Linked DNA regions of Homo sapiens: region 1 is linked to region 2. The links come from fine-mapping of genetic effects on gene expression. Tissue or cell type: whole blood. Region 2 holds a variant in brackets; the other region holds the start of a gene. All regions are shown on one strand. Distances are from middle to middle.

Region 1 (8,150 bases), 33 kb before region 2:
GCAGGGACTGTGCCTTGGAGTGACACTGAGCCTCCCAGCCTGACACGGTGGGCACACAGCTGCCCTGGAAACCCTGTCCACAGATGATCTGCCTCTCCCCCAACTGGGCAGCCTTCCTCTGAGTGCAGCCCAAACATCATTGCTAAGGGCAAGTTTCTTTTTTTGCTGCCTCCACCCACCCAGAGAAACAGGTTAACAAACAGGGACCAGGCAGGGACAGCACAGCCCCAACCTCAAGGCCACTGTCCCCCACATGCTCTGCACACCAGGAACCCCACAGCCAGTGCCACCCCTGACCTTGGTCAGGAGACCCACCCTGCCCTTGTCTTAGCCCAGAGGTAAGAACCCACAACACAGGCTGGGCACGGAGGCTCACACCTGTAATCCCAGCACTTTGGAAGGCCGAGGTGGGCGGATCACCTGAGGTCAGGAGTTCAAGACCAGTCTGGCCAACATGGTGAAACCCCATCGCTACTAAAAATACAAAAATTAGCCAGGCGCAGTGGCAGGTGCCTGTAGTCCCAGCTACTCGGGAGGCTGAGACACAAGAATCATCTGAACCCAAGAGGCAGAGGATGCAGTGAGCTGAGATCGTGCCGCAGCACTCCAGCCTGGGTGACAGAGTGAGACTCCGTCTCAAAAAATAAAAATAAAAATAAAATAATAAAACAACCTGCAAGACAGAGAGGAGGCTTAAGAAAGATCTGTGTGAGTACGGTACTCCCTTCCTGGTTCCCTGGCCCTGGGTTGACCCTATGTGCAGTGACAAGTGAGGCTTGTCACCCCCAGCCCCGGGGACCAAATCTGAACCTGTGCAGTGGGTTAAATAGCATCTCCTCCAAATCCACATTCACCCGAACCCGAGTGTGACCTTGTTTGGAAATGGGGTCTTTGTGAAGTAGGAGGTAGGACCGACTCCAGAGGCAGAGCCCTGACACTGGACCAAACTGAGGACTAGTGAAAACAGGGGTGGACGGGGCAGAAGCAGCATTCCAAAAGACATGCTCAGCAGTGTGCCATGTCAGTTTACCATTGCCATGGCAACGCCTGGGAGTTACCACCGCTTTCCATAGCAATGACCCAATGTCCCAAAAGTTACTACCCCTTCCCTAGAAATGTCTGCATAAACTGCCCCTTAATCTGCATGCAATTAAAGGTGGGTATAAATATGACTGCAAAAGGCCCCGAGCTGCTCCTCAGTACGCTTCCTCTGGCACAGCCCTGCTCTGCAGGAGCTGGCACAGAGCTATAACATCTCTTCAGTAAAGCTGTTTTCTTCTACCACCAGCTTGCCTTGAATTCTCTCCTAGGGAAAGCCAAGAACCCTCGCAGGCTAAGCCCCCTTGGGGGCTCGCCTGTCCTGTGCCACTTACAGGCATTATTAAATGAAGGATGTCAAGATTAGGCCATCCTGGATTTAGGCAGTTCCCTAAATCCAGTGACTAGTGTCCTAGGAAGAAGAGGAGAGGACATAGAGACACACAAAGGGAAAGGCCACGCAAAGACAAAGGGAGATCTGAGTGACTAGGCCACAAGCCAAGGAAGCCAGGAGCCACCAGGAGCTGGAAGAGGCAAGGGAGGCTCCTTCTCGGCACCTTTAGAGGGAACGCAGCCCTGCAGGCACCCTGATCTCACACTTCCGGTCTCCAGAACTGTGAGACGACACATTCCTGTTGCTCTAAGCCACCCGAAGCTTTCTAATTGGTTATGGCAGCCCAACTTCCTCAGCACCCCAGCCCCTGGGCACCAGCCCCCACCTCAATCTGCTGCTCTCCCTCTCCCTCATCCCCCAGCCAGTCTTTGCCTGGTCCTAAGACCCACCCCTCCTGGAGCTTTTTCCCCTCTCCCTTGCTTTTCTTTCTCTCTTTTTCTTTTCTCCTTTTTTTTTTTTTTTTTTTTTTTAAAGACAGGGTCTCACCCTGTTGCCCAGGCTGCAGTGCAGTGATGCGATCCTTGCTACTGCAGCCTCAACCTCCTGGGCTCAAGTGATCCTCCCACCTCAGCCTCCTGAGTAGCTGGGATTACAGATGTATGCCACCACACCTGGCTAATTTTCCTTTTTTTAGAGATGGAGTCTCGCTATGCTGCCCAGCCTGGTTTCAAACTCCTGGCCTCAAGCCGTCCTCCTGCCTTGGCCTCCCACAGTGCTGGGATCACGGGCGTGAGCCACCAGCCCAGCATCCCTTGCCTTTCATTCGCACCTCCACCTCCAGAATGACCCTCATTCCCTCCTGCACAGACGGTGACAGCAGTAACTCCTACAAACACCACCAGACTGATCTTCAAGAGCAGAGGAACTCCCAATCACGATTCCACCCCCGCCGGGCTCTCAAATCCTCCAGGGCTGCCTGCTATGGGGAGGGAGGCACACTTTGCTTGGCTCTCAAGGCCTCAGCCAGCCGGGTCCAAACCAGCTCCCAGCCTGGCCTCACCATCCCACCGCCAAACCTTTGCTCACACTGGCCCCTCTTCCTGGAACATGGGCCTCATGACCCCAGGTCTACCTGTGTGACCACCACCCCACCTTCTAGACCATTTCCAGTAGCCCCTCCCCCATGCTGCACCCCTGCTTCTCATGACCTAGGGGTTTCCAGAACATTGGGTCCAGCTGGGTCCTTCCACCCATCCTTAATGTCCCAACCCTTTGTTGTATATTTCCACAAGGGCCAGGGTGGACCCAACTCTTCTTTCAATCCCTCGCAGGCTCATACCCCAAACCTCCAACAGTTCCTGAGCACTCAACCCTGTGCCAGGCGTTGGAGACAGAGGCACGAGACAGCAAGGTCCTTGTTGTCATGGCAGTGACTCTGCAGTGGGCACGTGGGAGGCACCGGAAAAATGTGTTGAATTTGAGTCAATTGAACTGGATCTTGGAGACTGAGGGGATCTTGGTCTGGCCTCCCAGCCAGCAGGCATAAGAGGCTTCCAGATCCTTTTTTTCCTTTCTGTCCTCATTTCAACTTATTTTTCTTTTTACCAACAGTGTTATCTTTCTGCTTTTTAATTCTGTTCTGTTATGGAGGGAGGGTTGGAGGGGAACAGGCTGCCTTCTCCAGGCATCTGGCTGCTCTTCTGCCGTGGGTCTTGGGTCCCTAGACACTTTCACCAGCCCCTGCCCCCCTCCACCGGCCATACCCAGGACTGGGCCGCTGCTGCCCGCCCGGGGCTCCCCAACACCCACAAGCCTGGAAAGGTGAGATGCTGCCACCTACCCCCAGTGCCTGCCCCGACCTAAGACCACCCTGAGGACCATGCCCACCCAGCCAGAACTGCCCACCCAGCTTGCCCGTCGGAGCCCGAAGTGAGCGGCAGACAGGGCAGACGGCGGCCGTGGGAATCTCAGAGGGTGTCTGCAGTCCGGCTGGGAAGCATCGCAACTTCTCACCAGCAAGAATGCCCTGGTTGCTATGGTTACGGCAGATCCTGGATCTAGGCCAAGGCCTCCCAATGCAGGTCCCTAGGGACCCCCCAGTACTCACAGCGCAGCCAGGTGAAGCCCCGGGGCATGGTGGTGTTCCTCGTCCCCCTGAGAGCTCAGGCGCCGTCCCCAGCAGTGTGTCCACAGAGGCCTAAGCACGGCCTACATGGCCTCGGGGCAGCAGAGGTGGTCACTCAGTCAGGGAAGGGCTGGCCCTGGAGGAGTGGCTGGGCTGCGGGAGTGAGCAGGTGCCCCAAGGGCAGCAGCTGCCCTTATCTGCCCGGCAGCGTGGAGGACAGCCGGGGGGCGGTGGCCGCAAGTCCCATGGCAGCCCAGAAGCAGGTCTGAGCCGGTGGCTTGGGGGTCTTTCGGGGTCTTCCTTTCCAAGGAGCAGGAGGAGAGAGTCCCTGGCAGGCCCCTCGGAATCTGGGGCTGGGTGACGCTTTCTCTGATTTCTCCGACTGCAGCTGCTCAGTGTGAAATCTGGCTCTAGGAAGAGAAAGGAGGAGAGAAACTGATTATGTAAGAGCAGCGCTGCCACTCAGCCATCAGCCACAGCGCACACCGCACCCACGGCCTGCACAGGACCACCCGGCCCTGGCAGCTGGACACGGCTCACGTGAGAAATGACTTCAGGATGTCCGAACGGCCCTGGCCCATGAGTGAGTTATGATGACACCAGCTGGCAGCCTGGGGCCTGAACAAAAGCAGGACCAAGGAATGAACAGGTGGTTTGAGTTCACACATCGAGAGCCATGGTAGAGTCCATGAATGACTCAGGCTAAAGGACAGGTTAAAAAAGCAGACGAGCTCCCACTCCGAAAACAAGCCGGACGCAATGGCTCATGCTTGTAATCCCAGCACTTTGGGAGGCCAAGGTGGGAGGATTGCGTGAGCCCAGGAGTTCGAGACCAGCCTGGTCAGCATAGTAAGACCTCAGTTCTATTAATAAAAAAAAAATTAAGAAAAAAAAAATTTTTTTGAGACGGAGTCTCAGACTCTGTCATCCAGGCTGTAGTGCAGTGGCGTGATTTTGGCTCACTGCAGCCTCCACCTCCAGGGTTCAAGCAATTCTCCTGCTTCAGCCTCCCAAGTAGCTGGGATTACAGATGTGCACTACCATGCCTGGCTAATTTTTGTATTTTTAGTAGAGATGGGGTTTCACCATGTTGGCCAGGCTAGTCTCAAACTCCTGGACTCAAGTGATCTGCTGTCTTGGCCTCCCAAAGTGCTGGGATTACAGGCGTGAGCCACCGCACCCGGCCAGGACTAAGGTCTTTACATTCACTGAATCTCTCACAACAATCTCATGGAAGTGCAAAATCTCAGTTTATCAATGAGGAAACTGAGGCCCAGAAAGGTTAAGACACTTGTCCAAGGTCATACGGCTTGTAAGAAGTGTGACAGGAATTCAAACCCTGTGGGCTGGTGGCTGCTCCCAAAATTCGACAACCACACAGGGCTCAGCGTGTGTGCGTGGTCCTCCCATCTGCCCCTCTGGACTCTGCAAGGTCTGGACCATTGTGTCTGCTCTGCAGATCAGGCTGGAATTCCGTCTCTGATTTAGTTCTCTTCCATCCCCTCGCCTCCTCCCTGTCTCCCCTCTGGTGGGGGAAAATGGCTACAGAGTGACACCATCGGGGGAGAGCAGGTATGACTTGGGCATCTTCTTCATTGTGTGATCCATGGTGTCACCAAAGAATGCTGGCCCTTACCCTAAGAGGTGCCCAGCAGGCAGGCAGGGCCTTATAGAGAGAACACGGGTTGTTCAAGTTAATCCCTTATGCAGTCACCCTGAATCTCAGCCCCAGTCGCTGCCTGCTGCTGCTCCTCTTTTCCTTGTCCTTCCTCCTTTTCCTCCTTCCTCTTCCTCCTTCTCTTCCTCCTCCTCCTTCCTCGTCTTCCTCCTTCCTCCCTCTTCTTCCTCCTCTTTCCCCCTCCTCCTTCCTACTCTTCCCTCTTCCTTTCTCCTTCCTTCTCTTCCTCCTTCCTCGTCCTCCTTCCTTTTTCCTTCTCCTCCTTCCTCCTCTTCCTCTTCTTCCTCCTTCCTCCTACTCCCTTTCTCTTCCTCCTTCCTCCTCCTCTTCCTCCTTCCTCCTCTTCCTCCTTCCTCCTCCTTCTCCTCCCTCCTCTTCCTCCTTCCTCTTCCACCTCCTTCCTCTTCCTACTTCCTCCTCTTCCTCCTCTTCCCTCCTTCCTCTTCCTCCTTCCTCCTCCCTTCCTCCTTTTCATTCCTCCTCCCTCCTCCTTTTCCTCCCTCCTCCCTCCTCCTTTTCCTCCCTCCTCCCTCCTCCTCTTCCTCTTCCCCCTCCCCCTCCTCCTCCCCCTCCTCCTCCTCCTCACCCTGGCAATTCCCCTGCTGTTACAGCATCACTACAAACACTAACGTATCTAGAACATTTAGTTGTCATTAGTTTGGGGATTTTTTTCAGGTTTATTGAGGGCTAATTTACATATACTACATTTTACCCTTTTCAGTATACATTTCTAAAAGTTTTTAGCACATTTATAGAGCTGTGTAATTACTATAATAATCAAGATACAAAACATTTCCATCTACCCAAAAAATTCATTCCTTTATAGTGGAAGTTGTCTAAACAAACTGAAACAAGGTAGAATAGTATAACAGACCCCCATATAGCAGTTACTCAGATTCAAAAATTGTCAATCTGGCTGGGTGCAGTGTCTCACACCTGTAATCCCAGCACTTTGGGAGGCCGAGGCGGGTGAATCAGTTGAGGCAGAATAAACTCCAAGGAGAAGGGGAAAAAACAACTTCAAATACCAATAGAAAAACAAAAAAGTTATTTCCACAGAGTTGTCCATAAAAGGTCAGGACTTTGAGACCAGCCTGGCCAACATGGTGAAACCCTGTCTCTACTAAAAATACAAAAATTAGCCAGGTGTGGTGGTGCATGCCTGTAATCCCAGCTACTCAGGAGGCTGAGGCAGCAGAATCACTGGAACCCAGGAGGCGGAGGTTGCAGTGAGCCAAGATTGCTCCACTGCCCTCCAGTCGGGGCAACAGAGCGAGATTCTGTCTCAAAACAAAAGAAAAAAATGATCACTCTTCTGTCATTCCAGCTTCACTCATCCCCCAATTTTTTTTTCCAGGAATATTTTAAAGCAAATCTCAAACATGCCATTTCACCAGCATGTAGGGATTTTTAAAATATATAATCACAATATTGTCATCACACAACCCTCAAATTAATAACTCTTTAATATGATTTCATATAGAATCCACGTTCAATTTTCCCTGGTTATTTTTTAAATCTCTGATGTGCATCTTAAGTCTTTTTTCTTTTTAAAAATCAATATATAATTTGCATGCCATAAAATTTACCATTTTAAAGTGTACAGGCTGCGTGTGATGGCTCACACTTGTAATCCCAGCACCTTGGGAGGCCAAGGCCGGGGGATCGCTTCAGCCCAGGGCTTTGAGACCAGCCCGGGCAACATAGTGAGAACCCGTATCTACCAACAAAAATTTTTTTAATTAGGTGGGTGTAGTGGCACGGGCCTGTGGTCCCAGCTACTTGGGAGGCTGAGATGGGAGGATCACTTGAGCCAGGGAGGTCAAGGCTGCAGTGAACCATGATCACGCCACTGCACTCCAGCATGGGTGACAAAGCAAGACCCTGTCTCAAAATAAATAAATAAAGTGTGCAACAGCCAGGTGCAGTGGCTCACTCCTGTCATCCCTGCAGTTTGGGAGGCCAAGGCAGGTGGATCACCTGAGGTCAGGGATTCGAGACCAGCCTGGCCAATATGGCAAAACCCTATCTCTACTAAACATACAAAAGATTAGCCAGGCACGGTGGTGCGCACCTGTAATCCCAGCTACTCAGGAGGCTGAGGCAGGAGAATCACTTGAACCCGGGAGGCAGAGGTTGCAGTGAGCCGAGGTAGTCCCACTGCACTCCAGCCTGGGTGACAGAGTGAGATCCGTCTCAAAAATAAATAAAAATAAATAAAAATAAATAATAAAGTGTACAACTTTGTGGGTTTTTAGTGTACTAAGTTGTGCAACAGTCACCATTATTTAATTACAGAACATTTTCATCACCCCCAAAATAAACTCTGAACTCATTAGCAGTCACCCCCTATTCCCTCTTCCTCCCAGCCCCTGGCAGCCACTAATATTCTTTCTGTCTCTATGGATTTGCCTATTCTGGACATTTCATATAAATGGGATTGATTATGCAATACGGGACCTTTCATGTCTGGCTTCTTTCACTTAGCATGTTTTCAGGGTTCATTCATTTTGTAGCATGTTATGAACTGAATGTTTGTGTCTCTCCAAAATACATGTGTTGAAGTTGTAACCCCTAATGTGGTGGTTCCTGGAGATGAGGCCTTGGGAGATAATTAGGTTTGGATGAGGTCACAAGGATGGGGTCCTTATGGTGGGATAATGCCTTTATAAGAAAAGAAATCAGGCCGGGCTCAGTGGCTCACGCCTGTAATCCCAGCACTTTGGGAGCCCAAGGCGGGAGGATCACAAGGTAAGGAGTTCAAGACAAGCCTGACCAACATGGTGAAACACCGTCTCCACTAAAAATACAAAAATTAGGCGGGCGCAGTGGCAGGTGCCTGTAATCCCAGCTACTCAGGAGGCTGAGGCAGGAGAATCGCTTGAACTCAGAGGGCAAAGTTTGCAGTGAGCCGAGATCATGCCACTGCACTCCAGCCTGGGTAACAGAGTGAGACTCCGTCTCAAAAAAAAAAA
Region 2 (8,147 bases):
ACAGTCTGATAACAGACGAGCCTTTATTAGTCAAATCAGCCAAGCAGTTTTTCAGGCTCTTAGTATTCAGTGAAACCTTTATATCCCTTACGGTCCTCCGTCTTCAAGAAAAGTAGAATGGACTAAAGGTCTTTTAAAAACACACCTCACCAAGCTCAGCCACCAACTTAAAAAGGACTGGACAATACTTTTACCACTTTCCCTTCTCAGAATTCAGGCCTGTCTTCGGAATGCTACAGGGGGTACAGCCCATTTAAGCTCCTGTATAGACGCTCCTTTTTATTAGGCCCCAGTCTCATTCCAGACACCAGACCAACTTAGACTGTGCCCCAAAAAAACTTGTCATCCCTACTATCTTCTGTCTAGTCATACTCCTATTCTCCGTTCTCAACTACTCATACATGCCCTGCTCTTGTTTACACTGCCGGTTTACACAGTTTCTCCAAGCCATCACAGCTGATATCTCCTCGTGCTATCCCCAAACTGCCACTCTTAACTCTTGAAGTAAATAAATAATCTTTGCTGGCAGGACTATACTGAATCTCCTTAGGCACTCTCTAATCAGATGTCCTAGGTCTTCCCAATTCTTAGACCTTTTATACCGGTTTTTCTCCTTCTCTTATTCCATTTAGTTTTTCAATTCATACAAAATCATATCCAGGCCATCACCAATAATTCTACACAACAAATGTTTCTTCTAACAACCCCACAATATCACCCCTTACCACAAAATCTTCCTTCAGCTTAATCTCTCCCACTCTAGGTTCCCACGCCACCCCTAATCCTGCTTGAAGCAACCCTGAGAAACATCGCCCACTCTCTCTCCATACCACCCCCCAAAAATTTTCGCCGCCCCAGGACTTCAACACTATTTTGATTTTTCTTATTAATATAAGGCGGCAGGAATGTCAGGCCTCTGAGCCCAAGCCAAGCCATCGCATCCCCTGTGACTTGCACGTATACATCCAGATGGCCTGAAGTAACTGAAGATCCACAAAAGAAGTAAAAATAGCCTTAACTGATGACATTCCACCATTGTGATTTGTTCCTGCCCCACCTAACTGATCAATGTACTTTGTAATCTCCCCCACCCTTAAGCAGGTTGTTTGTAATTCTCCCCACCCTTGAGAATGTACTGTGTGAGATCCACCCCTGCCCGCAAAACATTGCTCTTAACTTCACCGCCTATCCCAAAACCTATAAGAACTAATGATAATCCAGCACGCTTTGCTGACTCTCTTTTCGGACTCAGCCCGCCTGCACCCAGGTGAAATAAACAGACATGTTGCTCACAAAAAAATAAATAAATAAAATAAGCAAAACAATATGAGTAAGACGGTCATAGAAAAATACATAGGCCTTAAACACATTATAAATTAAAATTTTTTCATAACAAATTTAAATTAAGACTACATTGAGTCACTGTTTTTCACCTATCAGATTGGTAAAAATCCAATGATATAAATCCAATTTAATGTGTTGGCAATGATGCGGGCAAACTAATTTTTCATCCAAAGCTGATGGAAGTGCAAATTGGTATTAACCTTATGGAGTGGAAATTGGCAATATCTCTCAAATCACAAATGCAGATACTTAGCAATGCCGTTTCTGGGAATTTATCCTGCATATACAGTATGCACCTGCAACAGGCCACGTGTATGAGATTTTTCATCTCATCAGCGTCTGTGATAGCAGATGGTATAACCTGCATGTTCACCACACAGTAGTATAGCATGATAGATTCAGTAAAACAAGCAAGACACTGAATGGTGTGTTTTCTATGTTGGAAGCTGTGTTCAGCAGAGGTGGCAAAGCTTTTATCTATAAATATCTGTGGAAGGAGTTTGAGGGGGGACGGATTTTTTTATTGAGACAGGATCTCAATCTGTCACCCACGCTGGAGTGCAGTGGTGCCATCTCAGCTTGCCACAACCTCCACTGCCTGGGCTCAAGAGATCCTCCCACCTCAGTCTTCCGAGTAGCTGAGACCACGGGTGTGCACCACCACACTCAGCTAATTTTTTGTATTTTTGGTAGAGATGGGATTTCACTGTGTTGCCCAGGCTGGTTTCAAACTCCTAAGCTCAAGTGATTTGCCCCACCTCAGACTCCCAAAGTGCTGAGATTACAGGCACGTGCCACTGCGCCTGGCACTTTCATCTACCTATATCTATATCTATATATTTGTATATGCTTGCATTTGCATAAAGTGAACATATTAGAATAATTCACACTAAAGCGTGAAAGATTGGCAACTCAGACACCTTTCAGAGACAGTGTATCTTTATTTTATTTATTTATTTATTTATTTATTTTGAGACGGAGTCTTGCTCTGTTGCCAGGCTGGAGTGCAGTGGCGCAATCTCGGCTTACTGCAACCTCCACCTCCCAGGTTCAAGCAATTCTCCTGCCTCAACCTCCTGAGTAGCTGGGACTACAGGTGAGCACCACCACGCCCAGCTAATTTTTGTACTTTTAGTAGAGACGGGGTTTCACCATGTTAGCCAGAATGGTTTCGATCTCTTGACCTCTTGATCCACCCACCTCGGCCTCCCAAAGTGCTGGGATTACAGGCGTGAGCCACCACACCTGGCCAGTGTATCTTTAAAAGAAGATGTTTGTTAACCCAAATAAGTCTAGAATTCGATGGACTTTTTGTCAGGGTAGTAAAATAAGTTGCAAAAATGCATACACCGTAAGTCCAGAGATTTGGGGGGTAACAGGGGAGCCATAGATCAGGAGTTTCTGTTTTCCTGAGGATCAGCTCTAATTAGATTAGACCCAATAAAATATAAACAGTTACCCGGTGAGGCCGGTTATGGGACAGGAGCAGGAAGAAAACTCTTTGCTATAGTTCTATTTTACATGATGTTGAAACCGTATGAGTTTATTCTCTAATCAAAATACTAAGCAGTAAAACAGAGGAGTTGCAGTTCATCAGCTCCTGAGCCTTGGGCAAGACCTACAAGATCTACCCCAGCTCCTGTTCCAACAGAGCCTCTGTCATTTATAATCAAGGAACAAATATTTACAAGAAGTTTTATCACCTGTAACAGCTCACTGACACTTGCCAGAAATGCTTTATGTGAATATTGCTATTGCAAGACACTGTGAGACACAAAGAGTGTAGGCAATTCACATAACTTCCCTTAAAACCCAGTTATCTCTTAGGCAGAGCAAAGA[T/C]AAGGACAAACAACATCATGAAATTGCTGTGAAAGGCAAGTGTGTGCACATTTCTGAAAGCAGCACAAAAACAAAACAGGTTCCGTGTTCAGCAGCTGCACCACAGCTAAACCTCGGCTCCCATCACTGTTGAATCTGAGCTTCCATGCTTCTCAAACCTCAGCGGGCTTAAGAACCACCTGGAGAGGCTGTTAAAAAACACAGGCTCCAGGCCCCTCCCTCAGACATACAATTCAGTAGGTCAGGGGCCCATGAACTTGCATTTCCAGCATGCTTTGTCTCTCGGATGACACTGATGGGGTGGTGCAAGGACCACATTTGAGGAGTCTGCTCCAAAGAAGGGTTCCTCAAACTGTGCCATACAGACACATTACCTGGAATCTTGTTAAAATATAGACTCACTCAGAAAGTCTGGGGTAGGGCCTGGGATACTGCACTTCTTTTTTTTTTTTTTTGAGACAGGGTTTTGCTCCATTGCCCAGGCTGGAGTGCAGGGGCATGATCACAGCTCACAACAGCCTCAGACTCCTGGGTTCAAGCAGTCCTCCCACCTCAGCCTCCTGAGTAGCTGGGGCTACAGGCGTGCACCACCACGCCTGGATAATTTTTTTTTTTAAGAGACAAAGCCTTGTTGTATTGCCCAGGCTGGTCTCAAACTCCTGGCCTCAAGCAATCCTCCTGCCTCAGCCTCCCAGAGCACTGGGATTACAGGGGTGAGCCACCGTGCCTGGCTGGACTCTGCATTTCTTTCTTTTTTTTTTTCCTGAGACAGAGTCTCACTCTGTCACCCAGGCTGGAGTACAGTGGCGCAACCTCAGCTCACTGCAACCTCCACCTCCCAGGATCAAGCAATCCTCCTGCCTCAGCTTCCCAAGTAGCTGGGACTACAGGTGCACGCCACCATGCCTGGCTAATTTTTGTATTTTTAGTAGAGATAGGGTTTCACTGTGCTGGCCAGGCTGGTTTTGAGCTCCTGACCTCTGGTGATCCACCCACCGCAGCCTCCCAAAGTGTTGGGATTACAGGTGTGAGCCACCACTCCTGGCTGGACTCTGCATTTCTGACAAGCTCCCAGGTGCTGCAGATACCACTGGTCTGCAGACCACACTTTGAGTACCAAGGTTCCGGAATAGCCAACTCCAGTTGTTTCACAGATGAGGAAACTGCGCCTTGGAAAAGGTAAGTGACTTGCCAAGGGCACTTGTACAGTAAGGGTGGAGACCAGGTGAGGCCCCATCCAGTGTGGCCGCCATGCCTCAGGAAACCGCCCCGCTCCAACCCCATGTCCCCAGTCTACGCTACAAGCCTGCCTGAGCCAAGAAGGGATGCCAGCCCTTCAGAACATGGCATGGAAATTTACTAAATCATGCACAGTCCTTCACTCTCCGGAGAAATAAACCACTTACCAGGGAGATTAGTTCAAACCACCAGCCTCTGCAAAAATACACTTCTCACAAAATTATTTTTTCAGTTGCGTCACCTTCACTTCCAGTGACACCCCTTCGACCGGCCCTGCTGTGGGAACCTGAAGAAGACGACATGCATTTCTCAACAGATGTGGTCTGAGGCCGGGCACAGTGGCTCAGGCCTGTAATCCCAGCACTTTGGGAGGCCAAGGCAGGCAGATCATTTGAGGTCAGGAGTTCGAGACCAGCCTGGCCAACACAGTGAAGCCCCGCCTCTACTAAACATATAAAAATTAGCTGGGCGTGGTGATCCCAGCTACTTGGGAGGCTGAGGCAGGAGAATCGCTTTAACCGGGGAGGCAGAGGTTGCAGTGAGTTGAGATTGTACCACTGGACTCCACCCTGGGCAATAGAGTGAGACTCTGTCTCAAAACAAACAAAAAACATGTGTTCTAATTGGGAGAAGCAGAAATGGGGGTGGGGAAGCTGATCTTGGGGAAGCTGAGGAATCCCTCCTGAGCCCCAAAGGCTCCAGATTTACACTGTGTGCGTTTTTCCAACTCACTTTATACCTGTCAAAAAGTCCCTTCAATTAGAGATTGATGTGGGTTAACAAGCACTTTCTTTTCAGGATGCATTGCTTCTGGGAGGGTTCTGAGCTGACAATCTTTCACACTTTAGTGTGAATCATTCTAATACAGAGGTAAAGGGAGCAGAATTCAGGAAACTAAAGTCTCTGGAGTAATTACGGCAGAGTGGGCCTTACCTGAGATCCAGAGCTTCATCTGGGAGCACAGCCTTGGATGAACCACAGCTTGGGCCTTGGCCTCTGCACCGTATTCCAGCTTGGGCCTTGGCCTCTGCACCATACTCACCATTCACCAGCAGATCCCCCTAGCCCCCAGCCCCCAGCCCCCAGTGCTTTCAGGCTGTGAGTAGTTTGTGGGCCTGGCTCTGCCAATAACTTGCTATGTGACTTGAGGAAATCACACAGCTTTAGAGACTCTTAAAGCTGGAAGGAAAAGCCCCCAGGGGTCAGCTGGTTCCATGATCCCAGAACCCCGATTTCTAGACTACAGAACACACAGCCCCTATCGGCCTGTTGGAGGCTGGCTCTCCTGGAAGCAGAGCCTGAGACAGGCTTTGGGCTTCACATGATTAATGAAGGGAGGGAACCTCAAGACAGAAGGCTATCTTTTATTTTTACACAGGGTCTCACTGTATTGCCCAGGCTGGAGTGCAGAGGTGCAATCATGGCTCACTGCATCCTTGACCTCCTGGGCTCAGGCAATCCTCCAATCTCAAGCAATCCTCCTGCTCCTCCCGAAGAGCTGGGACCACAGGTGTTTGTCACCACATCCAGCTATTTATTTATTTATTTATTTATTTAAGACAGAGTCTTGCTCTGTCACCCAGGCTGCAGTGCAGTGGTGTGATCTCGGCTCACTGCAACCTCTGCCTCTTGGGTTCCAGCGATTCTCCTGTCTCAGCCTCCGGAGTAGCTGGGATTACAGGTGCCTGCCACCATGCCCAGCTAATTTTTGTATTTTTAGTAGAAACGGGGTTTCACCATGTTGGTCAGGCTGGTAACTTTTTTAAATTTTGTGTAGATATGGGGTCTTACCATGTTGCCCCAGGCTAGTCTCAAACCCCTGAGCTCAAGCGATCCACCTGCCTCAGCCTCCCAAAGAGCTGGGATTACAGGTGTGAGCCACTGCACCCAGCCCGAAGGCTGTTTTTAAATAGCACCACAGTGTTGTTCTATTTGAGGCAAAGAGGTCAGGCTTTTGCACCCCTAATTCAGTCAGTGGCCCCCCTGCAGGTGTAGAATGGTATAAACTCCCAGGTATCTCCAGCAAGGTGGCGGGGAGAAGGACACAAATCTGCCGTACCTGGCAGCCCCTCCCCCTTCACAGCAACTAGGAAGTGGATACAAGAGCGAGTTCAGGCAATCTGGGGGCACCAACCCTTCCTTCCAGTTCCAAGAGCCTCTCACATGTGTTTCAAAATACAAAGCCCCTGAGCACAGGAGTTCGAGACCAGCCTGGGCAACATGGAGAAACCCATCTCTACTAAAAACAGAAAAATTAGACAGGCGTGGTGGTGCGCACCTGTAGTCTCGGCTACTCAGGAGGCTGAGGCGGGAGGACTGCCTGAACCAGGGACATGGAGGTTGCAGTGAGCTGAGATTGTGCCAGGCCACTGTGCTCCGGCCTGGGCCACAGAGCAAGACCCTGTCTCAAACAACAACAAAAAGAAGAAAGAAAGAAGAAGCCCCCAAAATCACAAAGGATGGAAGGGGGGGAAAGAACGCAAGCAGTTTTTTCATTTCCAGAAGAATCTTGGAATCTGCCCTCAGAATCAACCCTAACTGCTCTCCGTGGCTTCCCGGCAGGCTTGAGGGGGCCCCTCCTTCCTCCTCACCCTAGCTTCACCCACTGTCCCGCACCGACGGCTACTCCCTGAGGACTTTGCCTTATCTCTTCCTGGAATATTCCACAAGAGATTTCTCCCCAGCTGGTTTCTTCTTGTCAGCTCAAACATCACCTCCGTAGAGATGCCTTCTCTGGCCACCAGGCCACCCCTGTCACTCCCTCTGCGGCACTTTCCACACAGCACTGGCCACTCGACATTATCCTAACTGCATTCAGTTGTGTGTTGTGTGTCGTTCTCCCCACAGGAATGACCACAGGGTCTGGGGACAGAGCCTGGTTCTGGTGTCATCATTGTGTCCTCAGGGCCTGGCACCTGCTTGACACATAGGAAACTCTATAACTTCTGGCAAATCATAGCTGAGTGAATGAACTGGACACATGGGCCAGATGCCAAAATTCCAGCAGAGAAGGAGAACTGGGTCAACTGAACACTCGGCACTCCCAGACGCTGGAGGAAAACAGGCACAAGACTAGGATGGGGATGAAGGAGAGAATCCACCAAGAGTTTTCTTGGCCCTTTGATTCCTCCCTCCTCTCCCAGATCCCTCTCTCAGCTCCTACCTTGGAAAAACGTTCACTTTTTTTTTTTTTTTTCTGAGATAGAGTCTCGCTCTTTCGCCCAGGCTGGAGTGGAGTGGCGCAATCTTGGCTCACTGCAACCTCCACCTCCCAGGTTCAAGTGATTCTCCTGCCTCAGCCTCCAGAGTGGCTGGGATTACAGGCGCCCGCCACCACACCTGGCTAATTTTTGTATTTTTAGTAGAGACGGTTTCGCCGTGTTGGCCAGGCTGGTCTCAAACTCCAGACCTCAGGTGATCCACCTGCCTTGGCCTCCCAAAGTGCTGGGATTACAGGCATGAGCCACCACGTCCAGCCTGACATTCACATTTTAAATGGTGCAAACCTCTCAAAACATCCAGAGGCATCTGGGTTCCAATTCTAGCTATAGATCTGAGTTTCTCTCTCCCCACTGGCACCTGCAAGAGGCACAGTGACCATGCCAGCCTCATGGGGTTGCTGAAAGCACTGGCCTCATGGGTAATATCACTCACTCAGGAACAGGCCTCTGCAAATTGAAACCAAGGCAGGATAAATCCCTACCCCTCAGAGCAGCCATACACCT

What was found. PIP is the estimated chance that this variant, and not a neighbour inherited with it, causes the effect.
Region 1: IL34 starts here. The variant in region 2 is fine-mapped to the expression of IL34 in whole blood (TOPMed, PIP above 0.99).

Annotation. Positions count from the first base shown.
Region 1 is chr16:70,642,305-70,650,454 of GRCh38, reverse strand. IL34 (interleukin 34) reads right to left here and starts at 3,896. Exons shown (of 6, transcript NM_001393494.1): 1 at 3,480-3,896. The coding sequence starts at 3,507. RefSeq lists an enhancer at 164-664.
Region 2 is chr16:70,609,675-70,617,821 of GRCh38, reverse strand. It overlaps a transcript of IL34 not described here. Among named protein-coding and RNA genes, the nearest start is that of IL34, 33 kb to the left of the region's middle. The variant T/C (reference allele first, on the strand shown) is at 3,184.